Regions from separate parts of the Homo sapiens genome. Here all the other regions are linked to region 2. Evidence: fine-mapped expression QTL. A gene starts in region 2. Each other region holds a variant in brackets. All regions are shown on one strand. Distances are between the middles of the regions.

The links. PIP is the estimated chance that this variant, and not a neighbour inherited with it, causes the effect. A credible set is the group of variants that fine-mapping cannot tell apart.
Region 1: its variant is the best candidate, but not a certain one, in a credible set for the expression of APBA2 in follicular helper T cells (Schmiedel 2018, PIP 0.81).
Region 3: its variant is the best candidate, but not a certain one, in a credible set for the expression of APBA2 in whole blood (TOPMed, PIP 0.82).
Region 4: its variant is the best candidate, but not a certain one, in a credible set for the expression of APBA2 in blood mononuclear cells (TOPMed, PIP 0.65).

What each region holds. Positions count from the first base shown.
Region 1 is chr15:28,983,370-28,989,522 of GRCh38, forward strand. All of the region lies in intron 2 of APBA2 (amyloid beta precursor protein binding family A member 2), which reads left to right. Among named protein-coding and RNA genes, the nearest start is that of APBA2, 100 kb to the left of the region's middle. The variant CAT/C (reference allele first, on the strand shown) is at 3,734.
Region 2 is chr15:28,882,878-28,889,030 of GRCh38, forward strand. APBA2 (amyloid beta precursor protein binding family A member 2) reads left to right here and starts at 3,097. Exons shown (of 15, transcript NM_001353788.2): 1 at 3,097-3,401.
Region 3 is chr15:28,942,034-28,948,107 of GRCh38, forward strand. All of the region lies in intron 2 of APBA2 (amyloid beta precursor protein binding family A member 2), which reads left to right. Among named protein-coding and RNA genes, the nearest start is that of APBA2, 59 kb to the left of the region's middle. The variant G/A (reference allele first, on the strand shown) is at 2,614.
Region 4 is chr15:28,916,114-28,922,266 of GRCh38, forward strand. It overlaps APBA2 (amyloid beta precursor protein binding family A member 2), which reads left to right. Exons shown (of 15, transcript NM_001353788.2): 2 at 5,527-5,636. Among named protein-coding and RNA genes, the nearest start is that of APBA2, 33 kb to the left of the region's middle. RefSeq lists enhancers at 2,005-2,527, 2,695-3,284 and a silencer at 2,193-2,487. The variant T/C (reference allele first, on the strand shown) is at 3,268.

The DNA of each region.
Region 1 (6,153 bases), 100 kb after region 2:
AGTAATTGGCTTTGGTTTTGACAAGGAGGACACCAGAGTCCTGTTCTGATACTCAGTTTTGGGCCCATGCGTGACAATTCTGTGTTTCTTTTCAGCATTTGCCAATACATTATTTTCTAGAGTCTCTCCCAGCATACGGAAAAACCCCAAATTCAAATTTGACTTTTCTCTTCGAGGCTGGTTGTGGCATGCTGAAGCTCCCAAGGCATGTAATGTAGTGAACAAGGTGGCCTCCAGGAGCGCTGTCGGCTCATGGGCCCCACCCACCCACCTCGCGGTGTAGGAGGATCCACCAAGTCACTGTCAGAGTGGGTTGGAGAGACCTGGCCTGGGGTCAGCTCTGTGGGCAGATGGGCCCTTTCCCCCACTGGGTGGAGTACGCTCCTTAGTAGCCCAAGACAGAACATTGCCTTCTCCCGAGAAACCCACCTCTGGGGAAGGTTAGGCCATGGGATCTGCGGGAAGGGTTTTAGGAGTAGATTAATGGGATTTGTGATCCCAAGCACCCAGGCCACTCTGTGGTCCCCACCCCTGGGCTTGAGTCCTGCTGAGGTATAAGTGGTGCTAGAAGACCTCTGCCCTGCCCTGCCCTGCCCTGCCCCAGGAACCTGGCTTTCTCTGGGCTAATGAGTGTCCTCTCTGAAGGTATCCAGAGGCCGTGCAGACACTCACACTTTGGTGTGAGGCGTGCCCTCGGTTGATCAGTTACACTGCTGTGGGGTGCACAGGTGGCAAGGTGGGGGATTCTGGGATCGGGGAGGCTAGTCTGGGTGTAGGGTCCTGCCCTGGAGGGGCTCACAGTGGGGTTGAAAGCAAGCTCTCGAGGCGTTATTATTCGGGACTCTGAGTGCCGGGCCATGCTGGGGGAGTGAGGGCAGGGGGAGCTGCGGAGGCAGGGCTCTGAGGGCTTTAGAACAAGAGCCGGTGTGTGTTTCCCACTGAGTACCTGCCGGCACCTCATTTATGCCACGTAGCAACCCCATGACATAGGCTTATAGGGGACTATAATTATCCCCATTTCACAGCTGGGAGAACCTAGGCTTAGTGTCACAGAACCTAGGCTTAGCCACTGGGTGGCTGATACTGCCACCCAGTTCTGAGCCAGTATCAGCTTCCAGCCCCCTGACTCAGTCTCTCTGCTGTGGTTTCCTCTCAAGTGCCAGGATCCTTCCTGGTCCCGTTTCCAACTCAGACCAGTGGAGGGGCGCGCTGTGGTTACCACTCATTAGAAGAGAGGCAGGGTCTCTCTGTCTCTCTCTGGGTGTCCCCCACTGCCATCTCTGGGTGCTGGGGGAGCTGCTGTATATCTCTCTCTGTCTATCCCTATCTCTCCCTCCACTGCCATCTCTGGGGGTTGGGAGAGCTGCTCTGTCTCTCTATCTCTCTCCCCCCCCACCCCACTGCCATCTCTGGAGTTTGGGGGAGCTGCTCGCTCTCTCTCCCCCCTCCCACTGCCATCTCTGGAGGTTGGGGGAGCTGCTCTATCTCTCTCTCTCTCTCTCTCTCTCCCCCCACTGCCATCTCTGGGGGTTGGGGGGAGCTGCTCTCTCTCTCTCTCTCTCTCTCTCCCTCTCTCCCCCTCCGCCAACCACTGCCGTCTCTGGAGGTTGGGGGAGCTGCCTGGGATGCAGAGCGGCTTGGATTGGTGCTCCCTCTGCCTCAGTGGTTGAGCTGACCTCTGTCCAGTCTGTACACATTGGATCCTGAGGCTGAGCTTGGGTGGCTGTGGCAGGAAGGTTTGGTGACATCACACCCTTCAGGCTTGTGTCTGTCTGAGCCAGGCTCTGACTGGCTGGGAGAAGAGGAGGAGGTGGGGTTCTGGGAGGCCCTGAGGCTGAGCACGGCTGCTGTGCTCTGTGGCTGCACTGCAGGGGCACGGGCTCAGCATGTTCTGGGCCAGGGCACACAATGCTTTCAGATCAGGCTCCAGCACCCCACACGCCCCTTCATGCTTTGCACTTTTTGTCTACCAGCCAGAGGGCAGTGAATAATGAGAACAAACAACATCGGGTCCAGATTTTCGTGGTCATTTTCCTAACAAGCCGAGGTCAGAGAGCACTGAAAGGAGGCCTAAGTGCTTCTGCCACCTCAGCTGACTGTTTTTCAAAAAGGAAAGCATGCGTGGGATGTGTGTATTAGGTGTTACGGTGATGTCTGTTGTCAGATCATGGCCAGAAAAGGGGTTGTTTCAATTAAAATGGATTTTGGACTTCGTTTTTCTTGGAATGAGTAAATTGAGGGAAATAGCACATGTTGAGATTTTGGATTTCTGCTCTTAGAAAGGATTTAAAATAAGTGGTCTTCAGTAGTTCCACAGCGGATCTTCGAGACTGGTACAGATGGGGTCTCCTGGATGTAACGAGTTCTTGCTGCTTTAACTGGATCCGGTTGACTCTGTCTGACCAGCTCAGCTGGTTCGTTCTATGAAACGCACTTCTGCTTTCTGGAATCTGAAGGAAGGAGAGAGATAGAAGACAAAGAAGGACAGATGTGTTGGTGGCCAGACCCTGGCTTCTGAACAGTCCTTCCTGATGGCTTCAGGACCTGGGAGGAGCGGCGGAGCAGGTGGCTGCCCTGGGCTTGCCAGACACCTCCATTCCAGCAAGATCCTCCTGGGGGATGTGGTGCCCTCCCTGCCTCTCAGGCACAAGCATATGCTTGTTTGGCCTAAAAAAGTCTCCTTAATTAAAATTAATATCGTAATGCAGTAAATCCTTCTGCCTCCTCTTCCCCTGCCCAGTTACAATTCCCGGCGGCTCTCCAGCCCATAGAGGAGGCTTCTCAAAGTTTCCTGCCTCCTGGAGGAGAGAAGCCATTCCCCGATCACCCAAAAGGACAAAGTATGTGCCCACTCTGCGTCCTTGCTTGTCACTGCCCAACATCTGCAAACATTAACTAAAGTGCTGAGCCCATTCAGGTGTAGGACTCACTAGTTGGTTAATGTGACAGACAGCGTTTCCTGTGCCAGCGCTGGCTGGTCACTTCCTGTCATCCAGCACTCTTGAGTGTTGCAGTGGATGCCTGTTTCGTAGGAACACTCAGCCTGTTCCGTAAGAAGGAGCGCCACTTCTCAGCCTGTACTTAGCAGGTCACTACTGTTGGCCACTCTGCTTTTCTTTTTAAAATTTTAATTATTAAAAAAATTTTTTTTGAGAGTTTCCCTCTGTTGTCCAAGCTGAAGTGCAGTGGTATGATCTTGGCTCACTGTCACCTCTGCCTCCCTAGTAGCTGGGATTACAGGTGTGTGCCACCACGCCTGGCTAATTTTTGTATTTTTAGTAGAGACGGGGTTTCACCATGTTGGCCAGGCTGGTCTTGAACTCCTGACCTCAGGTGATCTGCCTGCCTTGGCCTCCCAGAGTGTTCGGATTACAGGCATGAGCTACTGCTCCTGGTCCCCTTCTTATTTTTATGTTAGTCTTTGGAAACAATTGGCATATATTTTAGTCTGTTTAGGTTACTGTAACAAAATACCATAAACTAGGTGGTTTACAAACAACAGACATTTATTTCTCACAGTTCTGGATGTGGGAAGTCTAAGATCAAGGCGCCAACAGATTTGCTGTCTGGTGAGGGCTTCCTGGTTCATAGAAGGCCATCTTCTCACTACATCCTCACTTGGTGGAAGGCTCAGGAGAGTTCTCTGGAGTCTCTTTTACAAAGGCACAAATCCCATTAATCACCTCCCAAAGGCCCACTGTCTAATAGCATCACTTTGGGCATTAGGTTTTAA[CAT/C]GTGAATTTGGAGAAGGGCAGGCACAAACATTCAGTCTGTAGCAGCATACAAAAATGTAACAAGAATAATGTGATGAACAGCTAGGTATCCACAAGCTGCTAAAGGTAGAGAATACTACCATATTGGTTACCTATTTCTGTGTAACATATTATGCCAACACTTAGTGGTATAAAACAGTAAACATTTATTATCTCACACATAGTCTGTGGGCCAGGAATATGGAAGCAGCTGAGCTGGGTGGTTCTAGTGGAGGGGAAAGATGTGAGCTGGGGCACCTGAAGGCTTGACTGGGGCAGGAGGATCCACGTCCAAGATCGACTTCACCTGGCTGTTGGCTGGCAAGAGGGCTCAGTTCTTTGCCATATAGACCTTTCCACAGAGCTGCTTGAGTGTCCTCACAACATGGCAGGCGGATTCCCCCAGCCTCAGTGATTCAAGAGAGAGTATAGAGAGAGTAGAGAGGAAGCCGCTGTGCCTTTTATGACCTGGTCTCATTAGTCATACACTGTCATTTCTGCTTATGTCTGTTCACTAGAAGCAAGTCACTAAATTCAGGCCACACTCAAAGAGAAAGGAATTAGGTTCCACTCTTTGAAGGGAGTGTCAAAGAATATGTGGAGAGAGATATATATATATATATATATATATTCTTTTTTTTTTTTTTTTGAGATGGAGTCTCACCACTCTGTCACCCAGGCTGGAGTGCAGTGATGTGATCTCAGCTCACCGCAACCTCCGCCTGCCAGGTTCAAGTGATTCTTCTGCCTCAGCCTCCCAAGTAGCTGGAATTTACAGGCACACACCACCACACCTGGCTAATTTGGGTATTTTTAATAAGGCAGGGTTTCACTATGTTGGCCAGGCTGGTCTCGAATTCCTGACCTCAAGTGGTCTGCCCGCCTCAGCCTCCCAAAGTGCTGGGATTACAGGCATGAGCCACCATGCCCAGCCTGTGGATGTATTTTAAAGCATCATAACACCATTGCAGCTAGAGCCCCTCCCCAGTTGCATCTTGTCTTTCACACAGAGGTAACTACTGTTGAAGTTTGATCCTTGTTTATGGCCTAGTACATGTATAAGTATTTCTATCCCTGTTAGTTCTGCATTTTGTCTGTAAGCGTTATGTAAATGATATCACCTTGTATTTTTTTCTGTAGTGTGCCTTTTTTTTTTTTTGAGATGGAGTCTTGCTCTGTTGCCCAGGCTGGAGTGCAGTGGCGTGATCTCGGCTCACGGCAAGCTCCACCTCCTGGGTTCAAGCGATTCTCCTACCTCAGCTTCCCGAGTAGCTGGGATTACAGGCGCCCGCCACTGCACACAGCTAATTTTTGTATTTTTGGTAGAGACGAGGTTTCGCCATGTTGGCCAGGCTGGTCTCGAACTCCTGGCCTCAAGTGATCCGCCTACCTTGGCCTCCCAAAATGCTAGGATTGCAGGCCTGAGCCACCGCGCCCATCCAGTGTGCCTTTTTTGCTTAACATTATGTTTGTGAGATTCATCCATGTGAAAACAGGTGGCTGTATTTCATGCATTTTCACTGCTGTGTGGTATTGCATTGTACAAACATAAGACTATTTGTCGTTCTCCATTGATGGATGCTTAGTTGGGTTCCTGTGACTTGCTGCTACAAACAAGGTTGTCTTGAGTACTCAGGTATGTGTCTCTCTGTGAACGTGAGCTGGATTTGTCAGTATATTTAGCAAGGATTGGAATTGCTATGGGAGAGAGTACAGTAATCTTCAAACGTACTAGAAACAGCTAAATTTTATTCCAAAGTGTGTGGGTGTCCTCATGAGTGGTCCCACTGACAGCGTATGAGTTTCCTCTTCTCCTTTTTCTTGACAGCACTTGGTGTTGTCAGACATTTTACATTTTTGTCTAATGCGTGAAAGTGCTGTCTACATGAGGTATTAATTTGCATTTCCCTGCGTGCCAGTGAGGCTAACATCTTTCCATGTATCTATTTTCACATATATATTTTTTCATATATTTGGTATTCTGTGAATGACTGGCCATATCTTTTGCACCTTTTTTTCTGTTTTCTTATTGATCAATCTGATCCGTTGTTGAGTTTATGTACCATAAATATCTTTTTTCTTTTCTTCCTTCTAACATAATGTAGAAGCTAAGAGTGTGGATTCTGGGGCCACATTGCCAGGGTTAAATCCCAGCTTCAACACTTCCTGTGTGGCCTTAGGCTTAGTCTGTGTATGCCTCAGTGTCCTCATCTGCAAAATGGGATGATGGCTCCCCACGGTGGGCCTGGGAGGATGCGCAGGTTCGTATCTGTGAATCAGTTAGTGCCTGTCATAGTAAGCACAAGATAGACTAATGCAACCTAGTGTGCTGGGCCCTGTGTGGCCACACGGGGCTGTATGCACAGGCGTCACCATGGCCAGAGCTGGAGCTCAGATGTG
Region 2 (6,153 bases):
ATCTGCCAGTTTCCTCTTGCTTTCTGGAATATATTGTATTACTGAACTCCTGGGTCTCTGATCAGTGAACACAATGACATCTCAGCATAGTTTTAATTTGCATTTCTTTTTCTTTTTTTGAGATGGAGTCTCACTCTGTTGCCCAGGCTCAAGTGCAGTGGTGCGATCTCAGCTCACTGCAACCTTTGCCTCCCAGGTTCAAGCGATTCTCCTGCCTCAGCCTCCCAAGTAGCTGGGATTACCGGTGCTCACCACCATGCCCAACTAATTTTTGTATTTCTAGTAGAGACGGGGTTTCACCGTGTTGGCCAGGCTTGTCTCAAACTCCTGACCTCAAGTGATCCACCTGCCTCGGCCTCCCAAAGTGTTGGGATTACAGGTGTGAGCCACCATGCCTGGCTTAATTTGCATTTCTTATTATGAATAAGGGAGGACAGCTTTTCAGATGTTTAAAAGTCATTTGTATTTCCTTCCCTGTGAATTGTCTGCTTCTTACCCTTTACCTGTTTCTTTGTCTTTTCTGTTAAGAGACAGTCTCATACTGCTGCCCAGGCTTAGTGCATTGGGATGATCATAGTTCACTGCAGCCTGGAACTCCTGGGCTTAAGTGATCCTCCTGTCTCAGCCTCCTGAGTAGCTGGGATTACAGGTGTGAGCCAAGGTGGGGGCCTGGTGATGATCCGTGATGCCTTCTTTTGATTTTTTTTTTCTTATCAATTTCTAGATGCTATCTATGTGTTAGGGAAATTAGCTGCTTGTGATATGAATTGCAAATAATTTTTTCCCCTTTGTTGTAGACTTTGCTTATGGTAGTGATTGCCATGCCAGAGTTTCTTTGAAGTCAAACTTAGCTGTTTTTTTGTTACCACTTTTTGATTTTGTTGCATACTTAGAAAGGCCTTTCCCATTCCAAGATACTTTTTTTTTTTAAATTTAAAATTTTAAGTTCCCAGATACAAGTACAGAACGTGTAGGTTTGTTACATGGGTATATGTGTGCCATGGTGGTCTGCTGCACCTATCAACCTGTCATCTAGGTTTTAAGCCTCACATGCACTAACTGTTTGTCCTAATGATTCTTCAAAAATTCTCTGAATACTGGCAGTTGGCTCAAGCTCACCAGATTTAGGAGTCCTGAGTGAGGCTGGGGGCAGGCCTGTACCTTTATTTTTAAATTTATTTAATTTATTTCATTTTTTAAAATGATAGGGTCTTGTTCTGTCACCAAGGCTGGAGTGCAGTGGCACGATCACAACTCACTGCAGTCTTGAACTCCTGGGCTCAAGCGAGCCTCCTGCTTCAGCTTCCCAAAGTATTGGGATTATAGGTGGGAGCCACTGTTCTTGGCCCTAGGCCTATACCTTTCATCTTGTGGACTGAGGACTTCAGCCACTATCACTCCCGGGTGCTGCGATGGGGTTTAATTTCCAGTGACTGGCCCAGAGCCTGCTCATGGGAAGATCTCAAGGGAGGCTGTTGAAGGAACAGCATGCAACTTACCGGCCCACACACGTTCACACAGATGGGGGTGGGGGTTTGAGGAGGTGGGGGGTGTTGTGTGGATCAGCTTCAGGCACAGGTGTCTGGTTTCCTATGGGATGTGACCACATAACAGTAAGGCAAGAAGATGACTGCATTTATCTTCTCAGAATCACTTCTTCTTAATTGTTGCTTCCCACTATTGGCATTGGTGAAAGGCTGGGCCACAGGAGGCTGGATGAACTTTGTGTTAGCCAGGTAAGCAGAATGTCTATGCAGGTGGAAAGTAGACAGTGAAGGTGTGCTCATCTGAGTACGGAGGGGCATAGGTCAGGAACCTCGTTGGCCTGCCCTGGCCTTTGCCCCTTTGTTTGGCCCTGTGGCTACAAAGCTCCCCTACCAGGAGCAGCCCCCACTGGCGGCTCTGGCCCTGGAAACCTGTGAATGTTTGGTGGGGGCAGGGTGTGGAGAGGCCAAGTCCACAGTGTATCTAACCCTAGTCCATCTCAGGATTCGGCTTCCCCCAGCCCCTTCTCCTTAGGGTCTCAGCTCGGGCCCTCAGGGCAGCAGGAAGATGCGCTGTCCTCACTCCCAAGTCCCCCTGCCCTTCTGTGCCTTCTGACCTGGGCAGAACTTCCCATGCCACAGCTTCGCCTAATCCAGCCACAGGAGAAAAGAAAACGAGGGCAAATCACCACGATTTGGGGGGAGGGAGGCCCCTGAGCCCCCGCTCTGCCCAGACAAGGCATCCTGTGCATCTCCCATGGCTCATCACATCTGCCTGGGACTCAGTGAAAGGGCCAGAGGGCCAAAGGTGACACCGGAGTCTCCAGCACGACCTTCGAGGGCCTCCAGGGCATTTCTCGCGCTGTAGGGGCGGAAGACTGGCTCCCCTGGGGATGCATGTGAGTGTCTAGGAGTGTACGCTCCCCAGGGCCCCGCGGAGGTCAGGGTTCTCTCCATTTAGGACAGCAAGGAGAGAAAGCCCTGGAGTGAGGCCCTGGGGCTGGGGGCTAAAGCAGCACAGAGTATCAGAAACGGGGTGCTGGGATGGTTACCGGGGACCGCCAGGGAAGACTTGGGAGTCCAGCATGCGCCTAGGGGAGCTGCGGTGGGGAGGCAGCAGGGGGCCTCCTCTGCCGGATGGGGCCTTCGGAGGCCGCGATCCCCGAGAGTTCTTCGCTCGAGGGTTCTTCGCTCTAGGGTCCCCCATTACAGCTGCGCGGGGCCGAGCAAGCAGGGCGCGGCGGCCGGGGCAAGGTGCGGAGCCTCGCGTTCACCGGCTCTACCTGCGGAGCCTCGCGTTCACTGGCTCTACCTGCGGGACCAGACCCCTGCAGCTCCCCAGCCAGCACGGCCGGGGCACGCCCGGGAATCTGTGTGCTCCCCAGGGCCCGGGGCGTTCGGGGCGCCGCGCCTTCCAGCGCCTGGGTCCCAGCCCCGATCCCGGAGACCGGCCCGGGGGGACCCGGGGTCCCGAGTGCACCCTCCTGCCCTGCAGACTGTCCCAGCGCCGGGGCCAGGGGGCGCAGGACCTCGCGCACGCCCGGCACGGACGCATCTTTGTCTTCCCTCTCTTCACGGCGCGCGATCTAGCCGGGAATCGTTTTCCGGCCCCAGTGTGCCCGGCGCGGGTGAGGCGGAAGCGGCCGGGGCGGGGGCGCAGGCCCGGCAGCCGCAGGCCGGTGCGGGATGCGCCCCGCAGCCGCGCCGCGTGCGCCCGGCAGAGGCGGCCCTGCGTGCCGTACGCTGCGTCCGGGGCGCGCCCGCCGCTATTCGGGAAGCTATTCAGCTTCCCGGGCTCATTAGCAGTCGCGGTGTGCGGCTCGGCGCGGGCTCACAAAGAGCTCGGCCTCGCGGACTGAGCCGGCGGCAGCGGGGCGGGGACGGCGGCGTACCCGGGCAGCCCAGCGCCCTGGCCAGGTAAGCTGGGGAACCTGGGCTGCCTGACTTGCCGGCGGCGGCAGCCTGGGGCCGCCCGGGGCGCCGCGAGGACCCGGACGCGTGGGGGGCGGCGCGGAGGTTGCGGCCCGAGCGCTCCAGAGCGCTGCCCTCCCGACTCAGCGTGGCTGCGGGGCGGCCGCCGCTGGGATATGGGGGTACAGCCCGGCGGCCCCACTCCTCTCTGACCGGCCGCTTCCCCCTCCCACGACGGGTGGGCGGGCGGGGCGGGGACCAGGCGGCGGCTCTCGCATCCCGCGCGGGGGGCACCGCGGCAAGGGGCCACCCGGCGCGGACAAGAGGCGCTGTGTGGCGGGGCTGTCCGCTCGACTCCTGCCGGGCTGGCCGGGCTGCTTGGCACCGGCATCAAGTCCCCGTGCCGGGCGGCAACTACTGAGTTTGGGGTCGCCTCTGGGTTCGCTGCCCCCAGAGAACCCAAGCCCAGATCTTCGCCCCCTTCCCTTTCCCTTTATAATAAGGCCCAGAGGGGAAAACTTATCAATTCAAAACCCCACACCCCGTTGCTCCTGGGCTGCAGGTGCCCGGTTGGGGGCACGGCGCGGACCTGCCCCTCGGCCTGGCCCCTTCCCCATGGCAGGCACTGCCTGGCAAGGCTGCTGGCGGGAGATCTGGCTGCAGATGGTGAAGGAGAACATCGAGGCCCCCGGTCCCCAAGCAGGGCGCCATGGGCCGGGCAGCGGGCCTCGGTGTGCCCAGGCGGGGAGGGGGCGAACTTCCTTTCTCCGACGCCTGCCGAGGACCGCCGTGGAGAGCAGAGCCTTAGAGGGGCCTGCTAGTCTTAACTTCGTATTTACTGGCAGAAGGAAGGCTTAATTTTTCAGATCTATTCAGATACGACCTGGCAGGCACCAGACATAAATCTGTGGTTGAGTGCAGTCAGCTCCTAAATGGGCATGTGGAGGGTGAGGCACCCCGAACTCGGCATCTTGCGTCTGGCACTGTTTTTGGGCTAAACTGCCTCTGGCCTCTTCAACCTCCTGTGCCTCTTTCTGTTTTTGTTTTTGTTTTATTTTTCTGTTTTCCTTCCTCTTTGAGAAAGGACAGTGATTTTAGAAATAATGACCCGAGAGCTTTGCAGGTTGAAGTGGGACGAGTTTTCCTAAGGTGCAGGTTGGCAGGTGCCAGGAGCCTGCAGGTGGCTTTTTCTCAGGCCTCTGGGTCAGGGTCCCTCCAATGAGGTGAGGCAGGGGTTTCTCCTGTGTGTCGCCACTACGCAGGGGACAGGATCTGGGTTTCCCAGTCCAGGGCGTCCAGGATGCCCTGCCCTCTGTGCTGATTCCTGGGTGACCGTGGGGGCTGCTTCCCCCTGCAGCCTGGGCTGGAGAGGGTCTCCTGAGCTTAGGATCTGCCAGGCAGGAGGGCCAGGGTGACACGGACCTGGAACGCTGGGGCTCCAGGCAATGTCCAGGGCGTGAGTGGGTAAAGCTGGAGCTTGTGGCTGTGTGCCGGCAGCCTTCCCTCGGTGGGCTCTAGCAGCACTGTCAGGGGGGCCCTTGGAGTGGGCTCCATGGCTGGGCTGGGACTGGGTGATGGCATTAGCGATGGGGCACCGAGTCTTCCCTCTTATTTATTAGGAAGTGTGGTCTGTGCCCCTCCCTACTGCCGGTCTCCTGGGCTCCTGGGATGGGAGGAGCTGCAGGCTGAGTCCCACGGGGTGTGAGTGTGTGTGAGCAGGAGAGTTGGGTGGGCGCTGGAAGGAGGTGAAACTGGTGACCGTCAGCTCCTCATTCTCTTCCACCTTGCATGTTTTCTCTGACACCCTAGACTCAAGTTGTGGCCTGCTAGTTAACTTGTTTACAAAACCTTTTTAAGTAGTTCTAACCTCTTTTTTTCAACAAAATGTTAGTTTTACAGGCATAATTGGTGGGGATGGATTGTGAAATGGAGGTGCATAAATACCTAGTTTGCCAACTGAGCTAAGAAATACTGGATAAAAATAAGAGATAATTGTAAAAGACACTGATCACACCCCTGGAAGCTGAGAGGGGTGATAAGACACCTTGATTTTTCCTAGACAAAACTGAGGAAGTCAGAGGAAAAACAGTTGATGGTGAGGTTGGCATCAGGCTGGGCTTTGTTTGGATTGGGCGGCGGTGGCTGTGGTGAGGGCTGTTGGAGTGGGGAGAGTGGGGGTTGAGCCTGGCTTCAGAGACCCCCTCGAGGCCTCAGCTCCTCTCCGGCGCTCCTGGCTGTCCTCTGCCACGCATACCTGCCCCGGTGACTCAACAGGTGTGGGCCTCAGGTGACACCATGGTCCGAAGTCGTGGAGAAACCTTTACTGTCCAGGGGAGGAGAGGACTGGCGGTCGGTGGGGATCGAGACCCAGCACACATCACTGGGTGGCTCGAATGTCTTCGGCAGAGATCACATGCCCTGCCTTGCAGCCTGGTCCTTAGAGAATGGGGAGAGTGGAGAGAGCTCTGGGCCTGGGTGGCGGGCGGTCCTGGCTGTATCACTCACAGGCTGCGTGCCCTCCCCATGCAGTCTCAGTTCCTCACCCTTGCCAGGTGGCTGTGAGGACTGGGAACGTGGAGGCACAGGTAGGATGTAAGGTAGCCACTGACCACCAGGCAGGCCTCCCCGATGTAGGTCAAGTTTGAGATGGTTGCTCACCAGGAGGCAGCCTGTGTGCCCGGTGGGGGCTGGGGGTGAAGTTTGAGAGGGTTGCTCACCAGGAGGCAGCCTGTGTGCCCAGCGGGGGCTGGGGGTGCTC
Region 3 (6,074 bases), 59 kb after region 2:
CAGGCGTGAGCCACTGCGCCTGGCCTCATAGCCATTTATTAAGCTAAATATTTACACTATGTTTTCTAAAAAAGTAAAATTATTTTAACAACATAAAAGTCAAAGGAAGAAGTTCCTGGAAGTGGTCTTGAAGGTGCAAGTGGGCAATTGTGAACAGTCTGCTGGTGCAGGATGTGGCGCTTCGTCGTGGGAGTGCTGTCTCCCTCCACTGTGGGCCGCGCTCCTTCCTGCAGCACTCGCAGCTCACTGCTGCCATTTCCCGTGTAATCCTGTCTTCTGTCTTGACTCAGACCCACTCGTATCTTTGTTGTCTGGGGTCTGCGCTTTACTAGGGGACCTTGGAGTTCTGTTGTTGGCTGTGACTTCATTCCATGTTCTTTCCCATAAGGAACTGTGTTGGGAATAGTTTGATGATTCCATGGTCATGCCTTTTGGCCTTTTCTGTGAGGGGCGAATGGGGAGCACATGGAACTTATTGCTGCTGTCTTCAGTATTTCTTGGGGGAGGAACTCGGTGTGGTTTTTTCCAGCCTGAGCCCACCCTGAGGTCGGTTGTTGGACCCACCTGCCTGATGCAGACTGCCAGGGTCTTCCTGCCAGCGCGGGATCCCCCACTTTCCATTTCCTCTTGCAACCATCAGACCCAGGGACACATGTGTGGCTCCTTCTCCAGTAAGCGACCTGGGAGGTATCCTTACCCCAGGACCCGAGTGAGCGTCTGTTGGAGACTCCCAGGTGTGCAGGCCAGAAGGACATGCCCAGTTGTGTGGCTGCCTCTTCCCTGCAGGGAGAGAGAGAAGGCTGGCGTGGGGCTTCTCCCCGGGCTGGGCCTGCGTTGTCCCCGAGGCCCGTGGCCGCTGGAGCAGCCCCTGAGCGACTCTGCTCCTTCCTGGGCCTCGGTTTCCTCGTTCTCAGGGGGGGCTTCTGCCAGACTGTCTGGGAGATGTTTTCAGCCCTCTAATTTGTGCATGCTGTGACTCACCCAAAATTACAGAGCAAAGCTAATGGAATCAGGAATTTATAAATCCCCCTTCCTTCCTCACGCGGTTCCTTGAGTTTTTGAAAACTACCATTCAGAATGAGACAGTGGCCTTCTACCTGAGGCCACAGGGTTGTCTGTGGCCTAACTGATTTCTGGCCAGTCAGGCTGGGTGAGCCTCAACAGCGTGAACATACTAAAGGCTTCTTCCTTGCCCTGGGACACCGGTTCTGGCCAGGCTACAGGGCTCACAGCTCAGACCTGCCTCTGCCTGGGAGTGACACGGTCCCCTCTGCTCACGTGCCATGGATCAGAGCTGCCATGTGGCCCAGCTTAGGGAGACCAAGAAGCATGGGAGACTCCCCGGCTATTTGACGAGCAGGACCTGTCCATGCCATCTCCCATCTGTGCCCTGCATCTGCGACTTCCAAAGAGCATTGGCCTGCACTGTCCTATGAAATGCTACCACAAGCCCTTTCTGGCAAGTGCAGTTAATCCTGTTCGGTGGGTTAGGAAACCAAGGCTCTGAGGGAGGCTTTCAGTGCCACAGCTGGGAGGTGAGAGTTGTGAGTTGCAGATGTCTCAGCCATCCCGAGCGTGACCATTCTGAGTGGCGGGAAGCTTTTCACTCAGCACTGAGTACATGATGCCTACAGTGTTCTGGGCCTCCTCCATCAGGAATCATGGGCCCTTCTCCCCAGGACGCTCATCGATGGCCCCGGCTCCTCCAGCCCTGGCTCCTCCAGCCCTGGCTCCTCCAGCCCTGGCCCCTCCTTGGGCTGTGGCTGCACCCTGGGCTCCACCCATTCCAGACCCAAAGGCCCATGGGCCAACCAGACACCGCCCCTACATGGTGTGCCCACAGGCTCTTATGGATCCCAGAGGGCCCCCTTTGTCCTGCTTGGGGAGGCTGGGGTGGCCGCTACACAGTGCCCTGCCGTGGCCCCCATGCTCCCCAACTCCCTACTGTGTCTGCTGGACGTTTGAACAGCCTCCTGCCCTAAACCTTGCATCCTGCCACCTCTGGCCCACTCTCCACCCTGGCCTACTCTTCACCCTGGCCCACTCTCCACTCTGCAGCCAAGTGATCTTTTCCAGCAGCACATGTGACTGAGTATTGCTGATGGCTGCGACTGCTTTCAGGATCAAATTGTGTCTCTTCCGAAAGAGACATCAGATAAGAGACATTGGAAAAGAACATGAATTGCGGTCACCCAGAGCTCTTTCGCGGTTTGGGATTAAGCCATGCAGAAAGGTGTGCAGGAGCCTAGATCACCTGCCAACCTGCCTCTTGCCATCCTCTATTTTGTACGCTCAGTCACCCCAGAAAATTGCTCCGGCCCTTGGATTTACCTCCGTGTCACTGTCCATCCGGTACCCTCTGCCTGGGATGCCTCCTGGGTCTCCATCACCCGCCTCACTCGTTTTTCCTCTGCACATGGCATCTACTTCCGCCCTTCCGCAGGACACCTTCCCAGGCTGGGTCTGGACCACCCTGCGGACTCGCTCCTCGCAATACTGGCCACATGCCCTCAAGCCCATCTGTTTCTTAGAGTCGATGTCCCCTAAGGTGTGAGTTCCTGGTGAGCAGGAGAACCTGTGCCTTTTATAACCTGGTGTGCTGCTCGGCGTGCC[G/A]AAGGAACCAAGGCGATGTTGAGAAATGAATGGAACAGCTGTACTGTGCAGAGATACGTGCAGAGAGGGGCAGGAGGAAGCCTCCACTTCAGACTTCAGTGTGAAAAAGAGACACTGGAAAAGAACATGAAATGTGGTTGCCCGATGCTCCTTTGTGGTTTGGGATGAAGCCCTGCAGAAAGGTCCGGGCAGCACTGCAGCCCCGCCATGCTGCTTGCCCCACGTGGGTTCTGGAGTCTGGTGGCACCTGGAAGAGCAGGTGGAGTGGAAGCTGCTAGAAGGTGGGAACCTGAGGGTCCTGGGCTGGCAGAGGCCTTGCCCCCGCTTTGCCTAGGGAGGCAGTGAGCTTCCTCCTTCATTTGAACTTTGCCCTGAAGAGCTGGGCCTTCCTTGTTCATGGGGAGCCTGATGCTTCTTCCCAGCACACCACAGCCACACAGGAGGTGCAGCAGAGCATGCGGAGATCCACCTGGCAACTCACAGCCAGCCGCGGCGTCACTGTCAGGACTCTGTGAAAAACAAGGTTTCTGTTTGGCGCGGGGACGACCAGAGGGAAGGAGACTGGTAGAGCCTAAGTATTCAGCCGACCATTAAAAAGTGAAAGTCAGAAGCAATGTAAGTCAAAACTCAGGACATCTCAGGGTGACCTTGGCCACTCACAGTTGTTCGTGTTTGAAATCACATTGATTCTCGCAGCTGTCCAAGGCGCAGGAAATAACCACTCTGGGTGATGTCGTTGGGATGGTTTTGTCAGCACTCAGGATTTGGGGGTTTGTTATGAAAATTTCACGTTACAAAAAAGGGAGAAGTGCAGTTTTGTGTGTTTAGGGTTATTGGTGGCTAGACATCTGAAAATCAGGATCCCCGCTCATTGATTTTTTTTTTTTTTTTGAGATGGAGTCTTGCTCTGTTGCCCAGGCTAGAGTGCAGTGGCCAATCTTGGTTCACTGCAACCTCGGCCTCCCAAGTTCAAGCGATTCTCCTGCCTCAGCCTCCTGAGTAACTGGGATTACAGGCGCCTGCCCCCCGCCTGGCTAATTTTTGTATTTTTAGTAGAGACAGGGTTTTAACATGTTAGCCAGGCTGGTAACTCCTGACCTCAGGTGATCAGCCTACCTCGGCCTCCCAAAGTGCTGGGATTACAGGCGGTGCCGCTCCTTACATTTTGTTGCTGTTCCCAGGAAGATTGATGGAGGGAAAACACACTCTCCACAGAGGAGATCCTGTGTTTACAGCCGTCTTAGATAGAGTCGTGATGAGGAGGAGGACTCTGGGCCGACAGTGTATGAGGGTTCCGCCTCATAAGGCTGTTTGGTGTTTGTGCCCACACTGGGTGTGACGGGTTGAAGCAGTGGATAACAAGCCTATTACTGTTATGCAAATGTGGGCGGCCCAGTTGCATTCTTCATGCATGTGTCTCTCCCTAATGAGTTTCAAAATCTTAATTTAGATCTTGATTTTGTTGCAGATAGGATTCCAATTTAAAGAGCGTTTGTCATTCAGAGACTGTGGTAGACAGGAAAATGGTCTTCAGAGATATCCACACCCTAGCTGTGGCGCCTGTAAATCTGTTACTTTATGTGACAGAAAGGACTTTGCAGATCTGATTAAGTTATGGATCTTGAGATGGAGAGATTATTCTGGATTATTCAGGTGGGCCCTTATAATCATGGTGACCCTTATAAGAAGGAAGCTGGAGGAGTTAATTGTCAGAGGAGAAGGTGCTGTGACGATGGAAGTGGAGATTGAAGTGATGCACTTTGAAGATGGAGGAAGCGGCTGCAAGCCAAGGAATGCAGGTGGCTTCTAGAAGCCAGAAAAGGCAAGGAAACAGATTCTTGCCTAGAGCCTCCGTAAAGAACCAGGCCAGTCGACACCATGACCTTAGCCCAAGGAGACCTGCGTGGGATTCCTTTCTTTTTATTTTCTTTCTTTTCTTTTCTTTTTTTTGAGACAGGATCTTGCTCTGTCATCCAGGCTGGAGTGCAGTGGCGCCATCTCAGCTCACTGCAACCTCCACCTCTTAGGTTCAAGCCATTTTCGTGCCTCAACCACCCATGTAGCTGGGATACAGGCACATGCCACCATGTCTGGCTAATTTTTGCATTTTTTTGTAAAGATAAGGTCTTGCTATATTGCCTAGGCTGTTCTTGAACTCCTGGGCTCAAGGGATCCACCTGCCTCAGCCTCGCCAAGTGCTGGGATTATAGGCGTGAGCCACTGCACTCAGCCCTCTGTGGGATTTCTGAACTATAGAACTGTAAGAGAGCAAGTTGGTGTTGTCTGAAGTCACTAGATTTATGGTGACTTGTCACAGCAGCCATAGGAAGCTAACACAGAGACTCAGGGACCAAGCCTTTCCATTGCAGCAAGATTGATCAGTTGTTCTCTCCCATCACGGGGCTCTCATTTTGCTCAAGTCCTATGTCATCGTCCCTCTTTTCCTGGAGAGCAGGAGCTGACTTCAGACGCCAGATCTTCTTTTCCTGCCACAGCGCACTTGCAGCTCTTGGGAGGTGAAGGTTCTGCCTGCTGCTCTTCTGGAATGATAAACGCTGGGCCCTTAGTGGAAATGTCAGGTGAAATGGAAGGCAGCTCCTTGGGTGCAGTGACAGGACCTGCAGTGGGCCTGTTGGAGCTGGCACTGAGGGCTGCTCCCCATCCCTCTGTGGGTGTATTGGCTGCATGCTGACTGGCCGTCCTCGTGGGCGTGGCCTGGTGTGTGTGCAGGTGGACAGAGGCTGGAGTATCCTTGAGAGGCTGTGCGTTCTCTCGGCTTCTTTTGGAGCCAGAGCCATCAGGGAGCCATCACCTGTCCTGGCCTGACCTGTCCTGTCATGAGTGCTGTGTTCCTTGAGCTGCCTCTCAGGCTAGGGGATGAGGTGGCTGTGCTCAGGCCTGGCTTCTGCAGGCTTCTTCCTATCTTTGGAGCGGCTCCACCACTGGAATCTGTGACATGAGAGGCCCGTAGCCCAGGCCCATCATCTAGAATGGAGAGGCAGCCCCACAGCCTCCTGGGAACCAGAGCTCCTTGCCTGGGTCATCACAGAACTAAGCCTTAAAATCAGGAGGCCTCAGCAAAGCGCCTCTAGAGACTCAAACCACCTTGTAAATCTCACTGGGAGTGAACGATTGACTTTTTACTCAGTACCAGGACTACATACTACCTCATTTATGGGTTTTTCCTCTAAATTGCTAATGTTTGAAGTGGAAATTTTCAAAACTGACTAATGTCTCTGCTTCAAGATTTGCTGTCAGGCAACTTATTTATAAATAAAGCAGCTTTTCAAGGAGCACTAACAAACAATCCCTCGTGTTAGGAGACTCAGAGCCAAGTCGTGGCTCTAGGTTGGCCTTGCAGGGTGTTAGGGAGCCAGTTCTCCACCCCAGGGCCATGGACTTCTGGGTCCTTGCACCATCCAGAGAGGTGATGATGTGGTTATTCCCATGTATAGAGTCTA
Region 4 (6,153 bases), 33 kb after region 2:
CTGCCCTCCTTTGGGTCAGCACCGCCTCCTGTGTTTTGGGTGTCTCTGGCTGTGCCCTGGGGCGTGCTTACGTCCTGGTCTTGTGGGAGGCTGGCTCCTCTGCTCCCGTGGGTGCCTTCCTGGGGGAGACCAGCCTGTTCGCCACCTCTCCTGATGCCCAGAGTGGCGGCCCGTTTGGGAAGTCCTGCTTCCTCCCCTTGCAGTCTACCCTTCCCCACAGGTCGTTTTGTCTCAGTGCCGACATCTCCCCAGCTAGAAGAGGAGACCTTCAAAGGCACACAGGTGGGTTTGATTATATTGCTGCTGAATATTAGATGCATTTTGGTGAAACACTCAACCAGTACACATATCTTTAATAAAGTAAAATGTCCAGGCCCCCTCTGCTCCCACCTGTCTCCCTCTCCCACCTCTCTCCCCGCTCCCCTCCCCAGAGGACATGGCTGACAAGCCTTTGAGGGGTTTCCCCTTTCTGTGTGCCTTTGCACGTGTGTATGGGCTGGGCAGTGTGTGTATTCTCTAGCCATCTTGACGGACCTGTAACTGGGATCTACACACGTGTGCTCGCTGTAGCTCACTTACCATTTTCCCTCAAAAACAGGCCTGTAAGATCCCTCACTGTAGTGCGCGTTGCCCTGCCTCTTTAAAAACGCCGTTGACTCTTCCAGCACGTGAACTCTGTCGTCATTTATTTAACCATTCTCTTATTTATGGGTACTTAGGTTTCCAGTTTTTTAAAAGATTGCGGCAATGAAAATCTTCAGACATCATTTTTTATACATGTGAGTCCTCCTGGAAATGGAATTTTTGGGCACAAGGATATGCCTATTTAAATTTTCGATAGAGAATGCTGAATTGCCTTTCTGAAAGGCTTCATTCTAAAGAAATACACTTCTCAAAAAAAGGGAAAGCTAGCAAAAAAGCAATTCTCTGCCAACAGCTGAATAGAGAGAGGGGGACTCTCTGAGGCCATGAGGTGGGAAATGTGGCAGCCTGGGAGAAGCCAGGGACCCGGGCAAAGGGTGGCATGGTTACTAACGTTTCCTTTCCTGTTTCCATCCTCCCTGCCCTCCCTCCAAACCCCCAGGAAAGCAGTACTGGGGAAAGACGGTAAATAACTAAAATCCTGAGAATTCTCATGAACACTCCTCAATTTGGAGAGAGAGGGACTGTGATGAGGGGGGTTGAGATGGTACCCAGAGCCTGATGGCCCTCACCAGCTTCAGGAGAAACCTGCTCCCCTCCAGGGCTCCTTCCTAGGGTCCGGCTTGCACTGCATTCTGGGAGAATCCTGTAGCCCCATCTTCCCTTTACCCATTGGCCGTTTAATGGTATCCCATTCTCACATTTAGCCTTTTGAATGAATCAACCACCATATTAAAAAATTAATAGATTTAATTTTTTTTTCAGCAGTTTTAGGTTTATGGAGAAATTGAGCAGAAAGTTTAGGGAGTTCTCCTGTACACCCTCACCCCATTTCCCCTGTTTCCTCATTATTAACATCTTACATTGGTGTGGTACATTCGTTACCATTGATGGGGCAGTATTATTATTAACTGGAGCCCATAGTTAAAACATATTGGGGTTCACTCTTCATGTTGTATATTTTATGAGTTTTGACAAATGGGGAATGACTCAGCTACCATGTCTTTGTTTTAGTAGATCGTTAGTTGCTTTTTGTCTTATTAGCTGACTCTTGTTTTGAGGAGAACTTTTTGTCACATCCTTTTGCACCCCGGCTTACTGTGGCGTGGGGCAGGGGTACTGGGGGCCAGCTGGTCTCTGGGGAGCAGCACTCACTGCATCCTGCCCCCGCCCCATTCTGCTCCTTTCTGGTCTCAGCAGCCTCCCTTGCTCCTTTCACCTGCCTACCCCAGCTCAGCTGCCTGCTGCTTAGATGCCACTGTGGGGCAAGGAAGCTGCCCCCAGTCGGTCCCCGAGGATTCTGCCCAGATAGGGATAAGAATCACCGCGAGTGTTTGCTGAGCACTTGGGAGGCATAGGCTCGGCGGGAAGGGAAGGCCTGCAGGCTGAGGTGGTCTGCTTTGAGTTTTGCAGCGTTGCCTGCGGTCTCCGTGGGTGAGGGAAAAGGCACAGGGAGGTGCAGAAGCGTTCCTGGCGCCACGGAGCCGGTCAGTGACAGAGCCGGGTCTCAACCCAGGCCACTGCCCTCGGCAGCCAAGCCCCTTCTTTATTTTGGAATGGCCACCTGGCCAACTGGCACACAGGGAGAACTCATGAAAGGAGGCGTGGCTCACTCCTGAAGGGAGAGGGACACAGGAGCAGCCTTGATGCGCAACGCCCCCTCCAGGCCCCGAGTCCCTGTCCTTGGAGGAAGCAGGACTCCCAGGTGGGAGAGGTGAAGCAGATGGCTTCCCCCACTGCAAGGAGGAATCCCGGTGCTCTTCTCCACCAGCCTTCCCTTTGGTCGCCCCCTGGCGTCCGCGTCATTGTGGGAACACTCGGGCGGGATGTATTTTAAAGGAGTGCCTGATGCGTGTGGGTGTGGTGGGGTTGGGGGTGGGGGTGGGGCTGGGGGTGGTTGCAGCGGGGCCTATGCAGGATCCCGGTTGGAGGGGGCTGCAGAGGCTACTGCTGGGCCTGGTGTCGCCATGGCAGCTGGAGAGCGGGCGACCGGTCGCTTGGCGTCCTGCTTGGGGTTGTTGCCCACATCACCGAGCGAACGTTCCTGTCCCGCCCACTCACTGCGAGGCTGGGCAGGGCCGCTTGCCAGTTAATTGTGGGGATTATTATTTTTTTTTTTTTGTAGACGGAGTCGCGCTCTGTCTCCCAGGCTGGAGTGCAGTGGCGCTATCTTGGCTCACTGCAAGCTCCGCCTCCAGGGTTCACGCCATTCTCCTGCCTCAGCCTCCGGAGTAGCTGGGACTACAGGCGCCCGCCACCACGCCCGGCTAATTTTTTGCGTTTTTTAGTAGAAACGAGGTTTCACCATGTTAGCAAAGATGGTCTCAATCTCCTGACCTCGTGATCCGCCCACCTAGGCCTCCCAAAATGTTGGGATTACAGGCGTGAGCCACTGCGCCCGGCCGGTTGTGGGGATTATCTGAGAGTTGCTGGAGTGTTCTGCACTTCCTTGCGAACCTTTTACCTGGGTGGGCAGGGGGAGAGGCCGAGTCAAGGGAAGGAGGCAGGATGCCACACACGCCCTGCAGGGAGAGTCATCTGCTGGGCACTGCGACACACAGAAAGCCAGGAGCCTGAGCCCCGCCCGCGGTTGTTGAACGGAGGGAGAATGAACAACCGCTGACT[T/C]CCTGGTTCCTGGGTGCCGCATCACTGCCCCTCTGCTCCGGGTCAAACCGGCTGTATGCTTAGCTTCAGGAACATGTGGCAGGTGGCAGCCCCCGGCCCCGTGGCAGGTAACGGTGGTTTTGCAGTGTGGCGTGCTGTGGGGGCCGGCAGGGGCACAGCTGGGCAGGCCAGGCTTTCTCTGGCTCAGTATGCAGGGCTGGTTCTTCCCAGAGGAGGCAGAGGTCAGGGAGGAGCTCTTTCCCTGTGTCTCCTGAACAGCTTCATCAGCACACCCTGCAGCGGGGACTCAGTGAGCATCCTGCAGCTGTCTTGTCCCAGAAGGGCTGTGTACTTTTGGCCCTGAGGGCAACCTCTGCATTTCCTTTCTGGGGGCTCCCAGATGAGCCCCGCTCCCCCAGGTCATCCTGATCCATATTGATGTGATAACCCCCTCCTCAGTCCGAAACATCTGGAGGCCCCGTTTGTCCGTGGGATAAGAATGGGCTTGAGCATGGCTGTGGGTGCTCCGTGTGGCGACAGTGGCATGTTCTGTGGCAGCTTGCTTCCTCTGTAGCCCGATGTCTTTGACTCCCAGCCCGATGCTCCCTCCTCACCCAGCAGAGGCCCCTCCTCGGCCTTTGCATTTGCTTTCATTTATCTTCCTTCTTTAAGGCTGCTTTTGAGGGTTTACTGGCCAGCAGCATCATGTGCAGTCTATAAACTGTGTGCCCTCTCGGGGCCAGGTAGGAGCCTGAGAGGGAATGGGAGAAGTGGTCACGAATGATTGTGAGGACTGCAGAAAGAAGACAGGGCTGAGAAGAGTGTGATTTCCCCTAGAATTCAGAGATGCCTGCACCAGCTGGGTTTTGAAGAATGAATAGGAGTTTGCCAGGAAGATTCTAGAGGAACAACAGCAACAAAAAGATTTAAACATGGGCACAGAAGAGGTGAGGCACAGATGGCACAGGGATTTGGGGTGTGATGGGGCAAGGAAGCCATGGGCAGGGTCTAGGCCCAGGACCTCAGGTGCTTTGCATGCCATGACTTGGAGGCAATGGCCTTGTCATGCAGAACTGTGCCTCCCTGGGCCCCATTAGAGTCCCTGGCTCTTGGTGTGCCTTTCATGCCCACACCACGGTAGGAGCAGGCAGGTGGGGTTTGGCCTGGGTTTCCCCAAAATGGACACTACTCCTTCTTGTGCTTCAGTATCAGAGTGGGCCCGTGGAGTGGGAATAAATGTTTGGGTTTAGGAGGCCTCCAGCTGGGTGGCCTGCTCCCAGGCAGGAAACACAGATTAGAGGAAGTATCAAGTTGGAAGGCAGCAGCCGTGGATGTTAAAGCTGGAGGAACCTCTTAAGGAATGGCTGTCAGCTCCCTCGTTTGGTGTGGTAGGAAGATGAGGGTGAGAGGGGTTGGGAGCAGGTGCTGGAGCTGGAGCCTGAACCCCCATATCTCAGTGCTGCCATCATCCTTCATAATAAGGAAACTGAGGCACAGGCAGGTTACATAGTCTTCTCAGGATGTCAGTGGCAGAGCTAGGACGTCTATCTCTGCAGCTCAGTTCTGTGCGAAGTCCAGGCAGATGGTGCTGATCAGTAAGGGGTGCTGGCTGAGCGCTGATGGCCACCTGCATCTCAAGGAGAAACAGTGTCACTGGCTAATCTGATGGCTTCTCTGGGCACCAGCACGTGGGCACCATCACCCTTTCTCTGCAGGGGGTTTGTTTAGTGTATTTGGTAGAACATCCCCCAGCCTACTAGGTGTGGCATGCTCTATGCCACAAGCTCTGTATCTCAGGCAGCATTTTGTACTTTGAAAAAACAAGTTGGGAACAGAACCCTGATGAATGTGTTTCATTTCCTGTCAGAGCAAATGAAACCTGAAATATTAATGGCACGAGATTTCCCTTATCTTCCTACAAAATCTTCCTACATTGAAAAATGTACTCCCCACAAGCTTAGCATGCAGCTCTGCTACCTGTGGCCCGAAATCATTAGTTGTCCATACTCACTGACCTTTGGAAATAAACACGAAGGTTCACTTGAAGACTTGGGGGAGAATCACGGTCAACTTGTGACGCTTGGTTTTTCAGATATTCAGCTGCTCTGGAGAGCCTTGGAGTTCCAGCTGCTCTAGAGGTTCTGGGGAGGGAGCTGTTAGCCTCCCATATGAGCGTGTGGCCCATCGTTGCCATCCACACCTGCCCCTCTGTGGGTGAATAAGTGGTTTCCTTTCTCAGCTGGTTGACGCTTCATTTGTTTGTGTTCTTTTTCTTTACAGTCTCCTGAATATTTACGCGTTGCTGAATCTCCTGTGGACAAACCACCAATAGGCCAGGACTGTCCTGTGGACAGACGGGGTGAGCCTCTTCTTGTGTCTGGAGATTCTGAGTGAGTAGAACCCGTTATGATCCCCACTGCACTTAATGTGGCATTCATGAATGAGTCTGGGCTGATGTGCTAATTGGGGGCCGTAAGAAGAGTTATAGCCACGATGGCCCTCACCTTTCTCTAATAAAAGCTTAAACACAGCTACGGTAAATATTTTTGCTTTCTGCTTTCACAAACTTCACATACGCTTACATTTATTTTGAGGCGAAAGGGGAAGAACAGACATTTACAGGGGACCAGTTGCTAGGAGAAGACTGTGCATTCCCTGTAACCCTGTCAGTCTCACCTCGGAGATCCTGTCCCTGGAGTGCCCCAGGTCCCTTTTCCCAGCTGCACTGAGTGCCTCTGTCCTCCTGGTGGAGCTGTGCTGCTTTCTTGGGCAGCCTCCCTTCCCCATGGGGTGCACATAGGCTGGGGGCATCCCGGTGGTCAGTTCTTCCCAGGGACCCAGGAGGAGGGGCTGGCAGAAAGTGGGCAGGTTCTTTCCGCTCGACCTGGCAATAACAATTCCTAAATT